Regions from separate parts of the Homo sapiens genome. Here region 2 is linked to region 1. Evidence: fine-mapped expression QTL. A gene starts in region 1. The other region holds a variant in brackets. All regions are shown on one strand. Distances are from middle to middle.

Evidence for each region. PIP is the estimated chance that this variant, and not a neighbour inherited with it, causes the effect.
Region 2: its variant is the best candidate, but not a certain one, in a credible set for the expression of CHURC1 in whole blood (INTERVAL, PIP 0.65).

The regions. Positions count from the first base shown.
Region 1 is chr14:64,909,096-64,919,540 of GRCh38, reverse strand. It overlaps CHURC1 (churchill domain containing 1), which reads right to left and starts at 5,086. Exons shown (of 4, transcript NM_001386928.1): 1 at 5,007-5,086. The coding sequence starts at 5,045. CHURC1-FNTB (CHURC1-FNTB readthrough) reads right to left here and starts at 5,180. Exons shown (of 14, transcript NM_001202559.1): 1 at 5,007-5,180. The coding sequence starts at 5,126. It also overlaps the pseudogene RPPH1-2P. RefSeq lists enhancers at 4,817-5,086, 5,237-5,286.
Region 2 is chr14:64,948,581-64,958,299 of GRCh38, reverse strand. All of the region lies in intron 3 of CHURC1-FNTB (CHURC1-FNTB readthrough), which reads right to left. It overlaps RAB15 (RAB15, member RAS oncogene family), which reads left to right. Exons shown (of 7, transcript NM_001308154.2): 2 at 5,729-5,789; 3 at 6,637-6,697; 4 at 7,149-7,226; 5 at 7,886-7,975; 6 at 9,567-9,632. Among named protein-coding and RNA genes, the nearest start is that of GPX2, 11 kb to the right of the region's middle. RefSeq lists an enhancer at 2,530-3,407. The variant C/T (reference allele first, on the strand shown) is at 5,066.

The sequences.
Region 1 (10,445 bases):
TATAGGCACTTATAACTATAAATTTTAAGATGCAGAGTATCATTTTAAGGCACTCTTACATACAACTGTTTTGCTAATTATATATTACTCAGCATTTAATTAAATCTGGTTCAATGTTATCTACTAAGCAACAACTTGAATATATGAAGTTTGGTAGCTTAGCTTTAAATGACAAATACAAAACAAGTAATTTTAAACATATCACTAACATTGATTTTTTCCCACTGATTCATAATGTATTTCTGTATTCCTGTTGCATTACTAACAAAATTTCAAGCTGAAATTAAAATATATGAAATGTTTCATTTCCAGTTTGATATGAAAAATATTTGATTACAATTTTGTGCCTGTTCAGTAATTTTAGAAAATGTAGTAGAGTTCTAGTTCTGACTGGTTTGCTAAATGCTTTTCTGAAGGAAAAAAAAAATGTGGTTCACCATTGAGTTAAAAAACATTTGGGTTCAGAAAATTAGTATGGTTCATTCCAACTTGACTCATGTTTGAATTCAAATTCTCAGTGTTAACAGTATAAGCAAGTAGGCCAGAGCCCCATTAAGAATTCAGTACTATATATTTCTAGTCTGTAAAAATAAATGACAAAACTCCAAACAACTTTATGTAATCGAAGATAAATAATTAACTATTACTTACTCATTCTACACTTAGAGCTTCCCAACAAATGATTTTTTGTTTGTTTGTTTTTTTAAGTAGACAGGGTTTTGCTCTGTTGCTCAGGCTGGAGTGCAGTGGTGTGATCTTAGCTCACTGGAGCCTCGAACTCCTGGGTTGAGGGAATCCTCCTGCCTTAGCCTCTTCCCAAGTAGGTGGAACTATAGGCACACACCACCACGCCTGGCTAATGTTTTTTAATTTTTAATAAGGATGGGGTCTCACTATGTAGCCCAGGCTGGTCTCAAACTCCTGGGTTCAAGCCATCCTTGTGCCTCGGCTTCCCAAAGTGTTAGGATTACACGTGTGAGCCACTAGGCCCGGCCCACCATCTTCTTATTACCCTTCCCTTTGCTAAGCTTCTGCAAAGCTGAGCAAAGCAGTGGGCTTCTGCTCTTACTGCACTTAAAAATAGGTCATGACTTCAAAGAACCCCAGAGTTGGAAGGATCCTTGACATTCCAAATGGTCAGTTAGTCTCTACTGAACAATAGGAAGAGAGCTTAATTCCTTTAAGAGTTACTCATTCCATTTTGAAATGTCAGAATGTTCTTTATTCTGATTCAAAGTCTAAGACCCGTAACATCCACCCACTAATTATTTCTAAATCTGCCTTCTAAAATTCCAAAGAAAAGTTTAATTCTTCTTCATGACAGTCTTTTAATTATTTTAGAACAGAATAAAATCAGAGAAAAGTGCCTTTGAAAGGCACTCTCCTGGTTTTCCAATCACCTCGATCCCTTTTTCTACTATTCTTCCTTATACTTTATTTTCATTTCTGAAGTTAATTTAGTCTTTGGAGCTCAGTCCTTGATTCTCTACATTTTTTTCCTCAGAGAACAAATCCTATTTTGACACTTGTATTTGACTGACTCATCTATCTACATAGTTGTACCCAAACTGCAGTCTTATATCTTCACTTGACCCTTCGGATATTCTCAACCTCAGGTGAAGCATGATATTAATAACAATTTGACCATTTGTCCCCAATTTTGTTTTTTCTTCCCATATGCCTCCAATTTCTGTAATGATACTTCCAACATCCCAGTTGCCTAGATTGAAAATCCTGAGATCATGTGATCATGTATAGGTCTCCCCTTATTCACTTCTACATTAAACAGGTTGAATCTTGTTAATTCTTTTTTTTTTCAACAGGGTCTCGCTCTGTTGCCCAGGCTGGAGTGCAATGGCACGATCATGGCTCACTGCAACCTCCCACCTCAACCTCCAAGTAGCTAGGACTACAGGTGCATGCCACCACGCTTGGCTAATATTTGTGGTGGTTTTTTTTTGTTTGTTTATTTGTTTTGAGACGGAGTTTTGCTCTTGTCACCCATGGTGGAGAGCAGTGGTGTGATCTCGGCTCACTGCAACCTCTGCCTCCCAGGTTCAAGCGATTCTACCGCCTCAGCCTCCCAAGTAGCTGGGATTACAGGCGCCTCCCACCACACCCAGCTAATTTTTGTATTTTTAGTAGAGACGGGGTTTCGCCATGTTGGCCAAGCTGGTCTCGAACTCCTGACCTCAGGTGATCTGCCAGCCTTGGCCTCCCAAAGTGCTGGGATTATAGGCGTGAGCCACCGTGCCCAGACTATTTGTATTTTTTGTAGAGACAGGGTTTTGCCATGTTTGAGACTGGTCTCAAACTCCTGGGCTCAAGTGATCCACCTGCCTTGGCCTCCCAAAGTGCTGGGATTACAGGTGTGAGAACCGTGCCCAACCTAATTCTTTCTTTGAAATAAGGTCTTCATTATCTCATGCCTACACCACTGTTGCCATGGCTCCTCAAATGCCCTGTGGAGTTCTGTCTTTACACACCCTCTACCCCACCATTTCAACATTCAGCCATAAGATTCATTTTCCTAAATAACAGATTTCAGAATCATTTCTCTATTAAAATTTTGATGGTGGCCCAATGCCTAAAATGTAAACTCTAAACTTCTCAATATGACTTTTAAGTTTTACAATAACTCCACTCTTAAGAATCCAACCTAAGGCCCGGCGCGGTGGCTCACGCCTGTAATCCTAGCACTTTGGGAGGCCGAGGCAGGTGGATCACGAGGTCAGGAGATCGAGACCATCCTGGCTAACAAGGCGAAACCCTGTCTCTACTAAAAATACAAAAAAATTAGCTGGGCATGGTGGTGGGCACCTGCAGTCCGAGCTACTCGGGAGGCTGAGGCAGGAGAATGGCATGAACCAGTGAGGCGGAGCTTGCAGTGAGCCGAGATCATGCCACTGCACTCCAACCTGGGCGACAGAGCAAGACTCCATCTCAAAAACAAAAACAACAACAAAAAAGAATCCAACCTAATCTCTTTAATATTCTCTACTGCAAACTCCTCCCTCATGGTCTCATAATAGCTCATGTTTATTACTGGTTTCATAAAAATCTTTTTAAACTTTAAAAAAATGAAATAGTACATAGTAAAGTACATGAAACATAAATGTAGCGAACAAGAAATGATTATAAAGTGTACATCTGTAGAACCACCACCCAAATCAAGAAATAAAACACTGCTTGCACCCGGGAAGACTTTTTCTCATGTGACCCTTCTTGATCACACCCTAATCCCTTAGGAGTAACCACTATCTCGACTTAACAGTAATTGTATACGTTCCTTACAGTTTTACCACCCAGGTACATCCTTGAATAATATATTTTGGTTTGCCTCTTTTTGAATTATACTTTATGTGTTCTTTCATCAACACTATTTGTAAGACTTTTCAGGCTGCTGTGTAATTCTAGTTTGGTTTCACGGCTATAATTCAGGGTTTCTCTACCTCCACACTATTGACATTGGGAGTGATACTTTGTTGTGGTGGCTGTCCCATGTATTGCTGGATGTTTAGCGGCATCCCTTGCATCACCCATTAGCAGTCAGTAGTACTTCCCCTTTTGACACCCAAAAAATGTCTCTGGATATTGCCAAATGTCTCCTAAGAGCCAAAAATCACTCCTGGTAGAGAACTACTGCTCTAATTCATTCACTTCCATTCCTCATTCATTAATGGTGTTCCATTCTAATGAATGTATCAGTTACTTTTCCAATCTACTACAAAAATAATGCTGTTATGAACACTTATTTATAAAAGTCTTCAGAAGCATATACACATGCATTTTTCTAGAATGGGAATCACTGGGTCATGTCTGTATTTTATAAGGCTCACCCGCTTTTTCAAAGTAGTTGTACTACAGGAGAATTCATACTGTTATACATGCTACTCAAAAGCCTAAGTATTACCCATAAGATACTAAGACATAAGGAACTACAGAGACTTTCTCCCTCCTTCCCAACCAATGCACAAATTCCATTTCTGTAATTTTCCCCCATCCTCCAGCTCCTCACCTTCTTTTCTACCCTAATTACAACTGTCCTTCAAGTCTTAGATGATGTCCACCTTTTCTCAGGGGAGAACAGCACTATCCCCTATTGCCCTCCCCTTTCCCTAAACTTGAATAGCATTTCTGAACTGAGCTACTCATTTTTTGTTAGTCACATACTCCCCAAAACTGTAAGCTGTTAGGCAGCACCAAAGGTGCCTTTTAATTTCTTCTCTGAAACAAATAATCCAGCTGGACGTGGTGGCTCATGCCAGTAATCCCAGCACTTTCGGAGGCCAAGGCGGGAGGATCACTTGATCCCAGGAATTTGAGACCAGCCTGGGCAACAGCAGCACCCTGTCTCAAAGAGAGGAGAAATAATCCCTTTCTGGCCTAGCAAAGTAATCTAACTACACATATATAAATGTTCAACAAGGATGCCTTGAATGAATGAGAATAGACAAGCTTTGCAAACTCCTGAACCTGAAAGTAACTGAGATTCAGAAGGCGGTAACAGGCAGGAAACCTAAATTCTAGTCCTGGCTCTCATCCATGCAACTAGAATGTGAACTTGGGCAAGTGATTTCCCCTCTCTGGGCATCGGTTTCTTCATCTGCAAAAGTGTTAGAACAGATGACCACAGAGGTCCCCTCCAGCGCTAGAATTCGGTAAGAAAATTGTACTTCATCAAATCGAGCTTGAGGATGAGACCGGAAGTGGGGGTGGGGGAGTCCCTCGGTTGTCGACGGGGGTTGTGGTGGTGGTGGGGTTCCTCTGTTGCTCCTTGGAGCTCAAGAGAACGGCCACTACAACTGAGGTCAGCCGCCAGGGCGGGTACCAGAGGTGCAGACCGCCACAGGCCATCCCTGGTGTGCCTAAATACCGCTACTGGGTCACCGGGACCGGCAGTGCGGCCGAGTCCGCCCCACGTACGGCCTCTCTGGGAAGGCCAGCCTTGGATATGAGACACCTCGGGGGCCGCCCGCGGGCCAAGGGAGCGCCCAGTCGCTCACCCGGTTGGGATATTCCTTCTCCACACAGTCGCCACACATCGCGACGCAGTCAACAGGGAATGTCCTCCAACGCTTCCGGGAAGACGAAACCTCGCGAGAACTGAGATACGGTTGCCGCATGCGCCCAAGTACTCGACTCCTGGGTATTCCGTCTCGGGAACCGAGCCGAAGTCTCCGCCCCTTAGCAACTGTTGTCAAGGCAGGGCACAGTCTCCTTGGCACCGTGCGTGGGCAAAGGGTGGGGCTTCAGAAACCTTTGGAGACAGACGAAGAAATCTTGTGCGCTAACAGATGTGACGGGAAGGGAAAGGGATCTTGGGCTGAGCGAAGTTCTCACAGACACCTTCCTGAGCTTAGGCTGACAAGAAAGGCAAATCACGACACACAAGAAAGGGAATTATTTCTCGCTACCGCATATACAAATCTGAAATGTTAATGAATACATTTCTGTACCATTTCTTAAGGCAATGAGAGTGAATAAGAGACCAGATCTCAGCAGGTGAATAAACAGTAACCGAAGTGTTTGGGAAGAGACACTCAGAGTGCTGCAGAAAATCTCCTAAAAAAACACTTAAAATATTAGTAATAATTGGTCATTCCAGAGTCCTCTGGAGGACATAGCAACGAGGAACGTATTTCTATCTCTCTCAGGTGTCACAGAAGCACCTCAGTGGCGGGCAAGCACTATGTAAATAGAAAAATGGCCAGGTCATCAGCCATCCCATTACTGGGTATATACCCAAAGGATTATAAATCATGCTGCTATAAAGACACATGCACATGTATGTTTATTGTGGCACTATTCAGAATACCAAAGACTTGGAACCAATGCAAATGTCCATCAATGATAGACTGGATTAAGAAAATGTGGCACATATATACCATGGAATACTATGCAGCCATAAAAAAGGATGAGTTCATGTCCTTTGTAGGGACACGGATGAAGCTGGAAACCGTCATTCTGAGCAAACTATCGCAAGGACAGAAAACCAAACACCGCATGTTCTCACTCATAGGTGGGAATTGAACAATGAGAACACTTGGACACAGGGTGGGGAACACCACACACCGGGGCCTGTCGTGGGGTGGGGGGAGGGGGGAGGGATAGCATTAGGAGATATACTTAATGTAAATGACGAGTTAATGTGTGCAGCACACCAACATGGCATATCTATACATAGGTAACAAATCTGCACGTTGTGCACATGTACCCTAGAACTTAAAGTATATTAAAAATAAATAGATTTCAAAAATTATCTAATTGAATTGACTGCAGATATTTTGATTTCAGATTTGCACATCCATTTATAAATGACCTATTGGTTCACAGATTAAAAAACCAATAAACATATGTGCTTCCAAGAAAAGAAAGAAAGAAAGAAAAATGGCCAGGTCAGTTGTTCCTGCATCATTTCCCAATCCTGTGGGTCTCAAAATGCTTGTGCTTGTTGCCCCGCCTCATCCTTTCTCTCTGTATTGAAAGCATCTTATTTATTCGCAACGACCTAATTAACTTGCAGACGAATCTCCGAAGTTTGTCTCTGTTTCTGAACAATGCGTCTTTATCACACTCCTCTACCCCAATGGGAACATCAACATCCTCCCTCAGCCCTGCTTTATTGCTGTCATGTCAGGGAAGAAAGATTGGGGAGCCTGGGAGACTCTGGGATCCAGATTCCTTAAAGAAGAGATTAATAACCATTTCAAAGCACACCAGTTTAAATGGGTTTGCTAATATGGGAATTATTTTTCCACGGAAGCACTGAAGTTGTAACCTTTAGTATTTCAACTTCTAGTAAGTATCTGCAACTGTTATTAAAAATCATAGGTGTGCTAAGAAACACTGCAAGAACTAGAGCCATCAGAGTTTACCTTATTCTTAGAATAATTATAATACCTCCCATTTGTATGACATTTTCAACCTTTCAAAAGTGTCCTCATTTCAGTTTCTAATTTTATGCTATTACAATCCTATGTGGTTGGTAAGAAAAATATGTCTCCTCTTTTCAGATAAGGAAACCACAGAAGTGAGTGGTTAAAGGTCTTGTCTATGGTAACAAAGCTACTCAGTAGTCAGCCAGGGCTAGGACTCTGTTGCTATCCTTATCTCAATTTCTTTCTAATACAGTAGCACTAGCCACTTATGGCTATAAAGCACTTTAAATATGGCAAGTTGAACTGAGATTGTGCTGTGAGTACATTCTGCACACCAGATTTGGAAGATTTAGTATTAAAATATATAAGAATCTCATTAATAAATTTATATGATTACGTTGAAATAATTTTTGACGTACTGGGTTAAATAAAAATGTATTATTAAATTAATTTCACCTGCTTTTTTAATGTGACTACTAGAAAATTAAAAATTACACATGTAGCTCTCATATTCCTATTGGACAGGGCTAGTCTTTTTTTCTTCTCTCTCTCTCTTTTAAGGCAGTCTCACTGTGTCACCTCGGCTGGAGTGCACTGGCATAGTCTCGGCTCACTGCAACCTCTGCCTCCCAGGTTCAAGCGATTCTCATGCCTCAGCCTCCCAAGTAGCTGGGACTACCGGGGCACACCACCACAACCGGCTAATTTTTTGTAGTTTTAGTAGAGATGAGGTTTCACCATGTTGGCCAGGGTGGTCTCGAACTCCTGGTCTCAAGTGATCCACCTGCCTCGGCCTTCCAAAGTGCTGGGATTACAGGTGTGAGCCACTGCACCTGGCCCAATTCTTTCTCTTCATCCATTTTTAAATGGTTTCTCTGTTTTTAAAGCCTAATACTGACTTTTAATCCTTTGCTACTCCCCAGCTACAATTTAGTCTGAGAGATAAAATGAGCACAAATACTAATAATTACTGGCAGATTGGGGTATAAGAACACAAAATGATGAGACTACACCCAGGGGGAGGATTAGGAAAGAGGAATTTGGGCCTTAAAGCATGTTTAGAATTTCAAAAAGCAGAGTTTTGTTTTGTTTTGTATAGAAATTTCAGGTGAACCATGCCAAGGAGTTTGGATTTTATTCTGCATGTGGTAGGGAGCAACTGAAGGTTTGAGCAGGAGAGTGTTGCCAGAGTTGTGGTTTAAAATTATTTTAGGCTGGGTGTGGTGGCTCACACCTGTAATCCCAGCACTTTTGGGACGCCAAGGCAGGAGGGTAGCTTGAAGCCAGGAGTTCAAGACCAGCTTGGGCAACATAGTGATGACCTCAAAAAATTTTTAAATTAGCCTAGTGTGGTGGTGTGCACCTGCAGTCCTAGCTACTCAGGAGGCTGAGATGGGAAGATCTCTTGAGCCTAGGAGTTTGAGGCTGTAATGAGCTATGATCATGCTGCTTGCACCCCCGCCTGGGCAACAGAGTGAGACTCTGTCCCTAAAAAATAAATAAATAAAAAAGATTATTTTAGCTGCATTTTATTGGGACTTACTGGAACTGGGAAAAAAATGGACATGCCAAAGGCAGACGTTAGCAGGAACCACAAGGGGGAGATGTATAGCTTTCTGCCTCATCACTGAGAATATACACAACAAAAATAAATTAATTAAAAATTACACTAAAGTCATAGATCTTAAAGAGTACACCCATTAGCATGAATTGATTTCATATTCTAAGGCATGAAAGACAATCTACATATTTATGAAATTTTTTTACCTTCCCAGAGTTATATCATAACTTGTTATTAAAATGAGCAAGATAAAAAAAAAAAAAGGTCGGCCGGGTATGGTGGCTCATGCTTGTAATCCCAGCACTTTGGGAGGCTGAGGCGGGTGGATCATGATGTCAGGAGATCGAGACCCTCCTGGCTAACATGGTGAAACCCTGTCTCCACTAAAAATACAAAAATTAGCTGGGCATGGTGGCGCATGCCTGTAATCCCAGCTACTCAGGAGGCTGAGGCAGGAGCAACGCTTGAACCTGGGAGTCAGAGGTTGCAGTGAGCCGAGATCGTGCCATTGCACTCCAGCCTGGGCGACAGAGCTAGACTCCATCTCAAAAAAAAAAAAAAAAAGTTGTCATATTTATGGTCACAAAAGCTCAAGAGCTCAGGGCTATCTATCCAATGAAGTCCTCCATTTAAATCTAGCCACATTCAGAGAAGAGAGGCAGGAAATGAGACTTGGGGGAAGAGGTAGCCAGGACCAGAAATTAAAGTGTGACTGTGGTAATGGGAATATAAAAGTATCTGAGGTTGACAGATGGGAGAAAGGAAAATAGAGGCTACAAAGCAGAAGATTAGCACCTGAATGAAATGAACAAGTAGTGATGTAACATAAGAAAAACAATAAACAGAAAAATATTTTCTCTTATAGGTAACTATATAAAATAAAATTTGCAAAATCAATTTTATCTTCTAATAGAATTTTCTCTGGGGAAATACCCTGCCCCTATGGGTCTCTAATAAATATGTGATGTCCATGAGATATATCAAACAAACCATGTTGCAGTTTACGTATGAGATCACCTCTTGTAAAAGGAATTGATTAAAGAAAATCTAAATGTTAAAATGGCCCTAATTGCTGGCTCAGTTACATGTGCTAAACTACATCCCTGTGGTAAGATGAAAATTTTCCCTAAAGAGTGCAGTTTGACTCTCCTTTTAACACCTTCTTTCTATTTTTTCTTTTGTCTTATGCTGTCTTAAGCCAAGAGTCTGAAGTGATGACACAATGCTGATCATATCTATTATTTTCATCTTTTGTTGAAAGGAGCAAATAAGTGCCCCAGCCTTTATGGTAGTATCCTCAGACCCATTTCACAGATGGAGTAGAGGAAGCTCATCTGCTTGGTGAAGGTATAGGTCATTCTTTCCATTGTTTCAGGGAAAGTGTGAAATAAGAGTCTGTGGTTGTCATCACCTGATGTCACCTGCCTGATATGAATGAATTAGCAGCATTTCTGGGTTAACCCAGTGAATACAGGTGAGCCTGGCTGAGGACAGGTACAAAAGCACTCCTAGAAGTTCAGGGTCAGCAGGTTTTTTTCTTAGCTCAATGGGAGAGTTAGACTTTCTTCCCTTTAGGGTTCTCCTGCCCAACTTCAGGCTACTTCCCCTATTCAGATGATAAACTCAAGCCTTTCAAGCACATTTATTTATTTTTTGCTTTTTAAAACTTTATTTCAACATAACTATGCTTACAGAAGTACAGTCATATTGGCTAATAGAATGCAATTTAAGTTTAAACTTACCCTGTACAATTTGAATAAGAAACTTGGTACGTGGTTTAGGATTTTAAAAATGATTTGCAGTCTGGTTTATTTTTTATCTATTACAAATGTATAAAAGACCCTCCATCAAATTCTGCTAAAGAAGGCAGCAGAAACTTGAGAAAATTACCTTTGGTTTGTCTTAGAAAAAAAACAGGCATTGCACTGCTTAAGTTTATAAAATTGGTGCAAAAAAAAATTGTAATGCTTCAATGCCAATTTAGAAAGTTCAGTTACCAATGG
Region 2 (9,719 bases), 39 kb before region 1:
ACTGAGTCACCTCCCAAAGCCCTCACCTCCCACCAGCACTGCACTGGGGATTAAGTTTCAATATGGGAATTTTGGAGGAACACAGACCTTCAGACCACAGCAGCGGGCTTCTCCTCATGTGCCCCCTGCCTCACTTCTAGATGCCGCATAATGTCAGTGAAACCCCGTCTCTACTAAAAATACAAAAAATTAGCTGGGTGTGGTGGCACGTGCCTGTAATCCCAGCTACTTGGGAGGCTGAGGCAGGAGAATCGCTTGAACCCAGGAGGCAGAGGTTGCAGTGACCTGAGATCGTGCCACTGCACTCCAGCCTGGGCGACAGAGGAAGACTCCGTCAAGAAAAAAGAGAAAAGGCATCAGGTATGCCAGGGTGTGCGGGAAAAGGCATCGGGTATGCCAGGGCGTGTGGGAAAAGGCATCGGGTATGCCAGGGTGTGTGGGAAAAGGCATCGGGTATGCCAGGGCATGTGGGAAAAGGTGGTAAGATTCCTCAGCCTCCCAGGGTTGGGAAGCCTCTGGCCGAGTGAAGCATACCCTGGGTGGGTTTTAAGACACCAGCTTTCCAGTCCAGCTCAGCTGTGGGATGTGGGAACATGAGTCAGTGGGAACATGAGAATTGGCTTCCCTGTGGCTCACAATAATACCTACTCCTGCCTACTTCATGGGACCCGCATAAGAGCTGAGGGATTCCATAGCTCAGGGGTATGCTGTAAAGACAAGCACTATGCACCTGGGTGTGGTTCTGAAACTTTCTTGTGCAGAAGAGTGAGTAGGGCTGGGCGAGTCCTGAGAATGTGCATTTCTCACACACCTCTGATGCTGCTGATGCTCTAGTCCCTTGGCTGGCAAGGGTACCTGGTTAGTAGGGGCCAGGACTCTGTAATGCCTTCCACTTCAGGGTTCTCTGGGCTGGTTTTCCTGACTCCCCAGGAAGCCTTTATTCAGCAGAGGGAAGGTAGGAGTGAGAGGACTACGCTGTCAGTGCTTCACATACATCGTTTAATTTATCCCAGCACAGCCCTTAGGAGGGAAGCAGTATTCTCCTTCTACACTTAAGAAAATCGGCCTGGTGCGGAGGCTCATGCCTATAATCCCAGCACTGTGGGAAGCTGAGGCGGGAGGATCGCTGGAGCCCAGGAGTTCAAGACTAGTCTAGGCAATACAGGGAGACCTCATCTCTACAAAAAAAAAAAAAATTAGCTGGGCATGGTGGTGCACACTTGCAGTCCCAGCTACCTACCCAGAGGCTGAGCTGGGAGGATTGCTTGAGTCCTGGAGGATCGAGGCTGCAGTGAGCTATGATTGCTCCACTACACTCCATCCCTGGCAACAGAGTGAGACTCCATCCCAAAAAAAAAAAAAAATTGAAGCTAGGAGAAGTTGAGACTTGCCTGAAGTTACACAGTAAGTGCCAGAACCAGGACTTGGACCAGGTCTTTCTGACTCCAGGCCAATGGATGTTTCTTCCATGACATATATAGCTCTTGAAACTACTTCTATCTAATATCACCCACAGTGCTGTTAAAAATACAGATTTCTGGGCCTCACCCTCAAATTATGATTCAGTAGGTCTAGGCACGTCAAGGTCATTGTTTTTGTCTTTGTTTTAAGTCACCCCAGGTGATTCTAAAGCCGAAGCTCTGCAAAGCACACCTTGAGAAACAGAGAACTCTTGTGCTCTCGCTCTCTTGACACTTCAGGTGCAAAACTTTTGTCCTAATGTCGTTCTCAAACTTACGCATGTGTGAGAATCACTGTGAGAGCTTATTGAAACTGATTGCGGGACCCCATACCTAGAGGGCCTGATTCTATAGGTCTGAGGTAAGGCCCAAGAATTTGCATATTTGCATTTCGTTTTCTTTTCCTTTCTTTTCTTTTTTTTTTTTTTTGAGATGAAGTCTCACCCTGTCGCCCAGACTGGAGTGCAGTGGCATGATCTCAGCTCACTGCAGCCTCTGCCTCCTGGGTTAAAGCGATTCTCCCCACACCCCAGACCCGCTCCTGAGTAGCTGGGATTACAGGTGCCCGCCACCATGACTAGCTAACGTTTGTATTTTTAGTAGAGACGGGGGTTTCACCATGTTGGCCAGGCTGGTCTCAAACTCCTGACCTCAGGTGATCCACTCACCTCAGCCTCCCAAGGTCTTGGGATTACTGGTGTGAGCCACCGCGTGCGGCCAGAATTTGCATTTCTAACAAGTCCCAGGTGATGCTGATGCTGTGGGTCCAGGGACACACTTTGAGAACAGCTTGTTACTCAGGCGATATGTGGACAGTAGCGTCATCTTCACCTGGGAGCTTCCTGCAGCATCTCAGGCCTTGCCCTACACCTACCAGATCAGAATCTGCATTTTAACTCAATCCCCGCGTGATTCTCATGCACCTGGAAGTTTGAGAAATATGACCTTAGAGGAGCCGGAATGTGAAACCACTGGAGGCAGAGATAGATGGAGAATATCTCTTCTTCTCACGGATACTAAAGATGCAACAAAAAGGGCTGACTCTCTGGGTGTGCACCCAGGTGGGGCTGATGACCGAAAAGAGGCCAGATGTGGACAGAGGACTCTTCCCTGAGGGAAGGCAGAGAGAACTTAGGAAAATCTGAAGAAAGGAGGTGGCTTCAGAGGAAAGGCATTCATCTGGGCCATAAAACAGTGGAGAAGGTATCCTGCTGAGAGCACAGGGGTGGGGAGGGGGTGCCCTGGAGCTGAAGTCTTCAGTGGGGGGACAGTGATAGGTGAACACACATGTGAATAAACAGTTTGCTAAGCAGCTGCGAGGGCTGGCCAAGGTGAGAAAGCATCCGTCTGCAGAGGCCTCAATAAGGCCAGTGTGTTGACTTTGTCCTGCAGTGCTCAGCAGTGGAAAAAACCAACAGCCACGCAGGGAGAGGGAAGGAGCCACGATGGGCACGGGTTACTGGGGCCAGGGCTTGACTGGTAGGTGGACACAGCTGAAGGCCCAGGTTGTGTGGGAACAGAGCGCAGAAGCAATAGATTCCTCTTGAAGATCCTTGGGCTGTTAACCTTTTTTAAATTTAAGAGAGGTTGTGTGGGCGGGGAGGGAGGAAGGAAAATCCTTCAGAAGACATAGACTTACTCTGTTTCTTCCATCATATGTGAATGCATATGAATAGCCAAAAGGTGAATAAAACACATGTTCCCAGGTGGCCAGTGAGACCTAGGTTGCAAGATGGTGGGGTGTGTGTGAGGCCGGGGAGTGCTGCGAGCCCCGGAATTCCTCAGCCTTAGTCCCCCGCCACATAGCTAAGAAGTGAGGGAGGAGGTGAGAAGGAGTCACTGCCCAGCCTCACTTCCGGTGGAGTACCCTGTCTCCTTGTCAGTTCTGTCTCTGGGGACAGTTGCCTGCTTTCACCTCTCCCTCCATCCCCTCTTCTCTCACAGGGAAAAATTCACCTTAATATTGGAAGTTCCTCTCCTAGCAAAGTCCTTCTCAGGCACCCACAGGCAAAAAGGAAACTAAGCAGAGTTAGGGCTTCCAGGCCTAGCCAACTACACGACTCTCCTCTTGCTTCCCTAAGAACCAGCGCAAGGGGCAGCGTGGGTTCCAGCATAGATGGACCTGTGTTGGAATCTCTGCACGTGCTGTGCTGACCCTGGCTAGCCATTGACCTCTCTGAGCCCTTGTTTCCTTTCCACTAGGCTCTCTGAGGGCAGGGGCCATGTCTTTTTCACTGCTCTGTCTGCACTGAGCACTGTGCAGGGCACATAGGAAGTTCCCATAAATGTTTGTGGGATAAAGGAAATAAAACCTTCTCTCTTCCTGTCCCCCTTGTGATGGCTTTGCACAAGGCACTGTCCTTGGCCAGGTTTGCTAGGCTAGTGTGAGGATAAACCAGGTATATTACAAATTGGAGAAAATTTCTCGTTCTTCTTGGAAGAAGGTGCTGTATCATGAAACAAGAATGTCTTGATTCCCTTCTATGCCAGGTACTGGGGAGAAACAGGTGCCTGATAACCGTTGATCCAGGCAGAAATAAGCATACTCCTGCTTCCCAAGGCCTGATGCTTCTCTCCTTCCTCCCTTCCTCCCTCCTTCTCTTCACTCTTTCTCTGCACACATGGAAGAATGGCTGCCAGGCATTGCCCATTTGGAAAAGTACAGCTCAATGGATATGAATCAGCTTGGGCAGGCGAGAAATGATTCACGTCTGACCAAATCGATTTAGTTCAGGTTGCCCGTTCTGCATCTTTTTTCCCTTGTAATTAAATGATGATTGGTCTTGATGGTGGGAAGGAAGAGACAGAATTTAATTTGTTTGCCTTTGTAGAAAGCTGGGGACAGCACAGATAAGGGAAGATGTCTCCCATTTGGCAAATAACTGATGCGGAGGTGGAGTGGCAGTGGTGATGGGGATGCTGGTGCCTTCAGGCCTTCTGGGCCGGGCAGTGCAGCTGGTGGCAGACGGTTCGGAACTCTACCATGTTCCCATCTGAAAACTGTGGCTGATCATGCCCACTCCTGACCTTGCTCCAGGGAGTACACAAAGACGTAAGCTTAATTAACCCACCAGACGTAGCTCTTGAATCCCTGGGCATAGTGCCTGGGTATAGTTAGAGTTGGGGAGAGGCATGGTCAGCAAAACAACCTCCCTCATCTCTCTGTTGTCACTCAGAGTCAAGCTGGCTGCTGCTGGTGGTGCTGACTTCTCTTGCTGCAGATTTCTCCAATATGTTTCTGCCCTGCACGCATTTGCCAAATCCCTTCGGTTTCTTGTGTCTCGTGGCAGCTTAGCTCCTCCAGCCCTTGGATGAAGAAGCGTGGGAACTCTTTGCTTCCTTTCCCTCCCGCAGTGACATGCCATGCCATGCCACTGCCTCTTCATCTGGTCCTATGACAGTCACTCATAAGCACCCGCATGTACCCGGCCCTGCACTAGCTCATGACAGCTGCAGTCAATTGGGCCAGGTGCTGTATCTCATCCGGCCTCCTCAGCAACCCTCTGAGATACTGGTAATGTCCCTGATGAAGATATTTACTGAGGCAGAAATGGACGCTCAGTGAAGCAAGGTGCCTGATGTTATAGCAATGAGCTATGAGTGGC[C/T]AGAGGGAGGAGATAAGCTCAGGCCTGACACCAAAGCCCATGCTCCTTCTAGTCAACCACAGTGCCTCCTATGGTGAATGAGTGAGTCAGCAACCAAGACGCATGAGGCCTTCTTTTTGGTGAGCCTTGGCTGGGTGCTGAGGCTTCAGGTACAATCATGGGTTGGAAGAGCCCTCCTCTCTCTCCACAGTCTGGCACTATGACCCCTTCTGGTTATTAACAAGGCAAAGAGAGAGAGGGAAGAAAGCAGGCAAATAATGTGGGTTGCTATTCCTAGAGATTAGAATTTCAGGAAGGATAAACACAGCGTTCTCTCCAGAAGTATAAATAGGAAGACTTCACACATGACTAGAACGAGACATGTTTTAAGTCTGTCGAGTAAGGCAGTGATGAAGTAGATTTCCCCAGATTCACTCTCCCTCCTCTGGGTCCCCCAGGGCCTTTACTTGTGGCAACTTTCAGCTCAGGGAGGGAGGAAAGCCCCTTTCAAAGCTTCAGATACTTCCTTAAGGTCAGTTTCTGCTTAAAGAAGGCCTTTACATTACTTCATCCCTTTGCCAAATTAAACTGAAAGGAAACCTTTCAAGTGTGATTGCCTGGCCCTTTCCTGTTCATTTCTCGTGGGTACGCTTTCTAACTTTCTTTCTTTCTTCCTTTCTTCAGGTGTTGACTTTAAGATGAAGACCATAGAGGTAGACGGCATCAAAGTGCGGATACAGATCTGGTGAGCTGGGGAGGAGGAGGAGGCAGATGTAGGAGAAGAGGACTTCTGGCTGCTCCTTAGCTGCCCCTGCCATGTGTAAAATTCCTAGGCTTCACCTGGGATAACTGGCCACCTCTCTGATGGATGGAAGCGAAGTCTCAGAAGCCCATCTCTTCCTATAAGCCTTAATCTCCAACCTCTAAGAAACTTTAGGGGATTGACTACAAGCACCAAAGGGCAGGAATTAGAAGGAACTGGCACACTAACCATTGTGAATTTATCTCAGGATTAGGCTTTGCCCTTGGGCTGTGCCACACTATGTTAAGATTGGAAGGAAGGAGGCTACACCCCCCATCATTTAGGGCGAGACCCTGAGAGAGTTCCTCAGGATAGCATGATGAAGTTTCCACAGTAGCAGAGGGTGCTGCTGTGGCTCTCTGCCTGAGGTCTTGGAAGCACTGCCTTTGCCAGGGTTTAGAGCTCCCTCTCAATTCCACAGCAGTATGGGCACTGCCTTCAGAGGTCCCATAGGGACTAGGGGTGTAGCAGCATCCCCTGCCAACTCCCATCCAACCAAATCTGGCCACAGTGGCCAGATTCCAGAGAGCTGTCCAAGGCCTGTTCTGGCTGTGGCTTCTGGTTTCTGCCAGGAGGGCAGTTGGCAGGAGGGGCCAAGGCCCTGCAGGCCTGGTCAGCACCAGCACAGATGACCAGGCCTCTGACTGCAGATCCCTGTGGGGATCCAAGCATCCCTGGTTTTTCACCCTTTAGCTCCCCAGTTTTTCCTACAAGGGGACAGCTCTGCTCTTCCCCTCCCCGTCTGTTCCCATGGTCCCTGCTCCTCTGAGGGACTGGCTTTCTCCTGCAGGGACACTGCAGGGCAGGAGAGATACCAGACCATCACAAAGCAGTACTATCGGCGGGCCCAGGTAAGCCACCACATTGGGGGTTTCAAAGTGGGAAGCTGCCACCCACACTCCCAGCTCTGGGTATTTGAGATGTCTGTGCCACGGATCCCCTAAATACAGTTCGCCTGCTTGGAGGAGCGCAGGGCGTCTTTCAGCTGTTCACTGATCATTTGTCCGTCCATTGTTCATGGCCCACTCACTGCAGGCAGGCCCCTGCCCTCACCCCTGACTTCCACCCTCCATCCTGGGTCAAAGATCCAGGTCAAAGCATGTGGTGTCTTCCTGCTGTAGAGAGTTCTGTGATGGGCCTGGGAGGCGGCAGTGGTGGGGTCTGAGAGAAGAGATATTTCTGGATGCTGAGCAGGGAGAATGGGAGAGTGGGACCCAACCTTTAAGTTTCCACGGCCCCTTCTGGCCCCATGACTGCACTCTCTCTGTGCATATCACATCTCTCTATTTCTCTCTCTCTCAGGGGATATTTTTGGTCTATGACATTAGCAGCGAGCGCTCTTACCAGCACATCATGAAGTGGGTCAGTGACGTGGATGAGGTAGGAGATGCCACCTCACTGCCGGGGTGTGGAGAGGGTGCCTCACCGGGGAAGGCAAGGCGAGGGCCAGATGGGAAGGCAAATGCTTCCAGGAAGCTTTGCCTTCCACAGCCCTGGATGAAGACCTCTGGGTGAGTAAGACATGGGGAAGAAACCGAAGCTGCCATGCCCTCACTCTCTATACCCTGCCAGGCCTCCACGGCTGTGTCTTTCCCGGAAATGAATTAGTTCCAAGTCTTCCCTGTGAGCAGCTTCTTTCCTGAAATCTTGGGACCAGGTGGAGTTGCAAGATTGGGATCTAGTCCTGGCTCTGCACAATAGCTGTGGAGCCTTGGGAAGCCATTTGAATCCTCTGGGTCCCCAGTTCCTGTAGAATGAGGGCTGGACTTACATCCAATGTCCTTTCCAGCTCTGATACCAGTGGTCTAACCCAAGGAAGCACCAGTCTTAGCCAGAGTGTCTTCTACCCTAAGCTCTCCCCGTGATACCCTTGAGGTCAGCCATGGCACTTGGGGGAGCCTGGCACCTGCATCCAGTCGGCCCACCCTGTCCCTAGGGCTCTGGAATTGGTGGTGGGCTGGAGGCAGTGCAGACTCTGTAGGGAAAATTGGGGGGGCAGGCAGCACTCACTGGCTGTTCTGCCCATCCTTTGTCCCTAGTACGCACCAGAAGGCGTCCAGAAGATCCTTATTGGGAATAAGGCTGATGAGGAGCAGAAACGGCAGGTGGGAAGAGAGCAAGGGCAGCAGGTAAGTGGAGGGAAAAGGCAAGTCCACCCCAGGTCCTCTGCTGGGCCTCCAGGGCCAGTCCTGAGCGTGGGGACCTAGGGGTGTGTTCCCCAGTGGCAGGTCCTCCCACACGTCCCCAGCACCCCAAGGCCCTGGGGGAGTGGCCATCCTCGGAAGGCTTGTTGTCTGGGTTTCAGGACAGAAGCCCAGAGATTCGGGGTCCATCCAGAAACAAAGACGTCATAGGCAGCAACTCTCCCAAGTCCAGGTCCCCAAATGCAGGATTGCCCTCTGCTTAAGAGATCATCCCCGTGTTAGTAATGAAGGACTTCAAGTTGTCAACCTCTTCTCTGACAGCATCCAGGCCTAGCTGCCATGTTACGGTCGAGAAATGATCTCCCATCCCACCCAACACTCCCCCACTCCTGTCCTTCTTACCCAGGAAAGAGCCAGGGAGGCAAATGAGGAGACAAAGAGCCACAGCTGGAGAAGCCATGGGGGCAGAAAGGGTAGGAGGATGACGCTGAGGGAATGTCCAAGCATGCAGGGAGACCATCCTCCCAGAGAGCAGAAAGAAATATTGGTTATTTTTTTTTTCTTTCTTTCTTTTTTTTTTTTTTTTTGAGATGGAGTCTCGCTCTGTCACCCAGGCTAGAGTGCAGTGGCGCCATCTCGGCTCACTGCAACCTCTGCCTCCTGAGTTCAAGCAATTCTTCTGCCTCAGCCTCCCAAGTAGCTGAGATTACAGGTGCATGCCACCACGCCTGGCTAATTTTTTTGTATTTTTAGTAGAGATGGGGTTTTGCCATATTGGCCAGGCCGGTCTCGAACTCCTAACCTCAGGTGATCCACCTGCCTCAGTCTCCCAAAGTGCTGGGATTACAGGCGTGAGCCACTGTGCCCAGCCAAGATTGGTATTTCTGAGATAAGTTATCCACTCAGTCCGTGGACCTCAAGAGTTTTCCTCTCCCTTTTCAGTCAATAGCGTTCCATTAGTACTTAAAATGAAATTGATTGTTTGGTATAAAATATAAGACATGGTCATTGACCAATTTGAAAGTAGAGGCAAAGCCTACTAGGATAGTATTTATTGAGCACTCTATGTGTGGCACTGTGCTAAGGCAAGCGCTTTTAAGTGCACGACCCCACTGAATCATCCCACAACCATGGATGGGAGACACACTCAGTCTCCTTTAACAGAAGATAAAGCTGGGGCTTACAGAGAATGTACAACTTGTCCAAGGTCACACAGCTAGCCATCAGTGGCAGTGCTGCTATTCAGGTCTGGGACTGTGGGACTCCAGAGCCCATGTTTTTTACGAGGATGCCATACTGCCACAATGGATGGTGTCTTTATCTCCTGATATATGATTGTGTGTTGGGAGGCGTGGGGTGGCAGCTGGAAGAATGGAGAGGCATATTTGTGGAGGATCTTCCCCCATTCTCTGCTACCCTCTCTTGGAGCTCCCAGTCCCATCTGAGAAATTATCTACTCTGAGAAATCGTCACAACACAGCATGGTTGTGAGTGCAGTGGCAGAAGCCTGTGCCTGGTTGTATGGGCCCCTCCCCTGCCTTACTGACTCTCTTTCAGAAATGTCCTTCTCTTGCAGCTGGCGAAGGAGTATGGCATGGACTTCTATGAAACAAGTGCCTGCACCAACCTCAACATTAAAGAGGTGAGAGCCCTGGTGACCAGGCGCCCGCTCTCTCGGGCTGAGTCCAGCAGAGGTGGGAGGAGGAGCCATAAGATGGACCTTATCCCT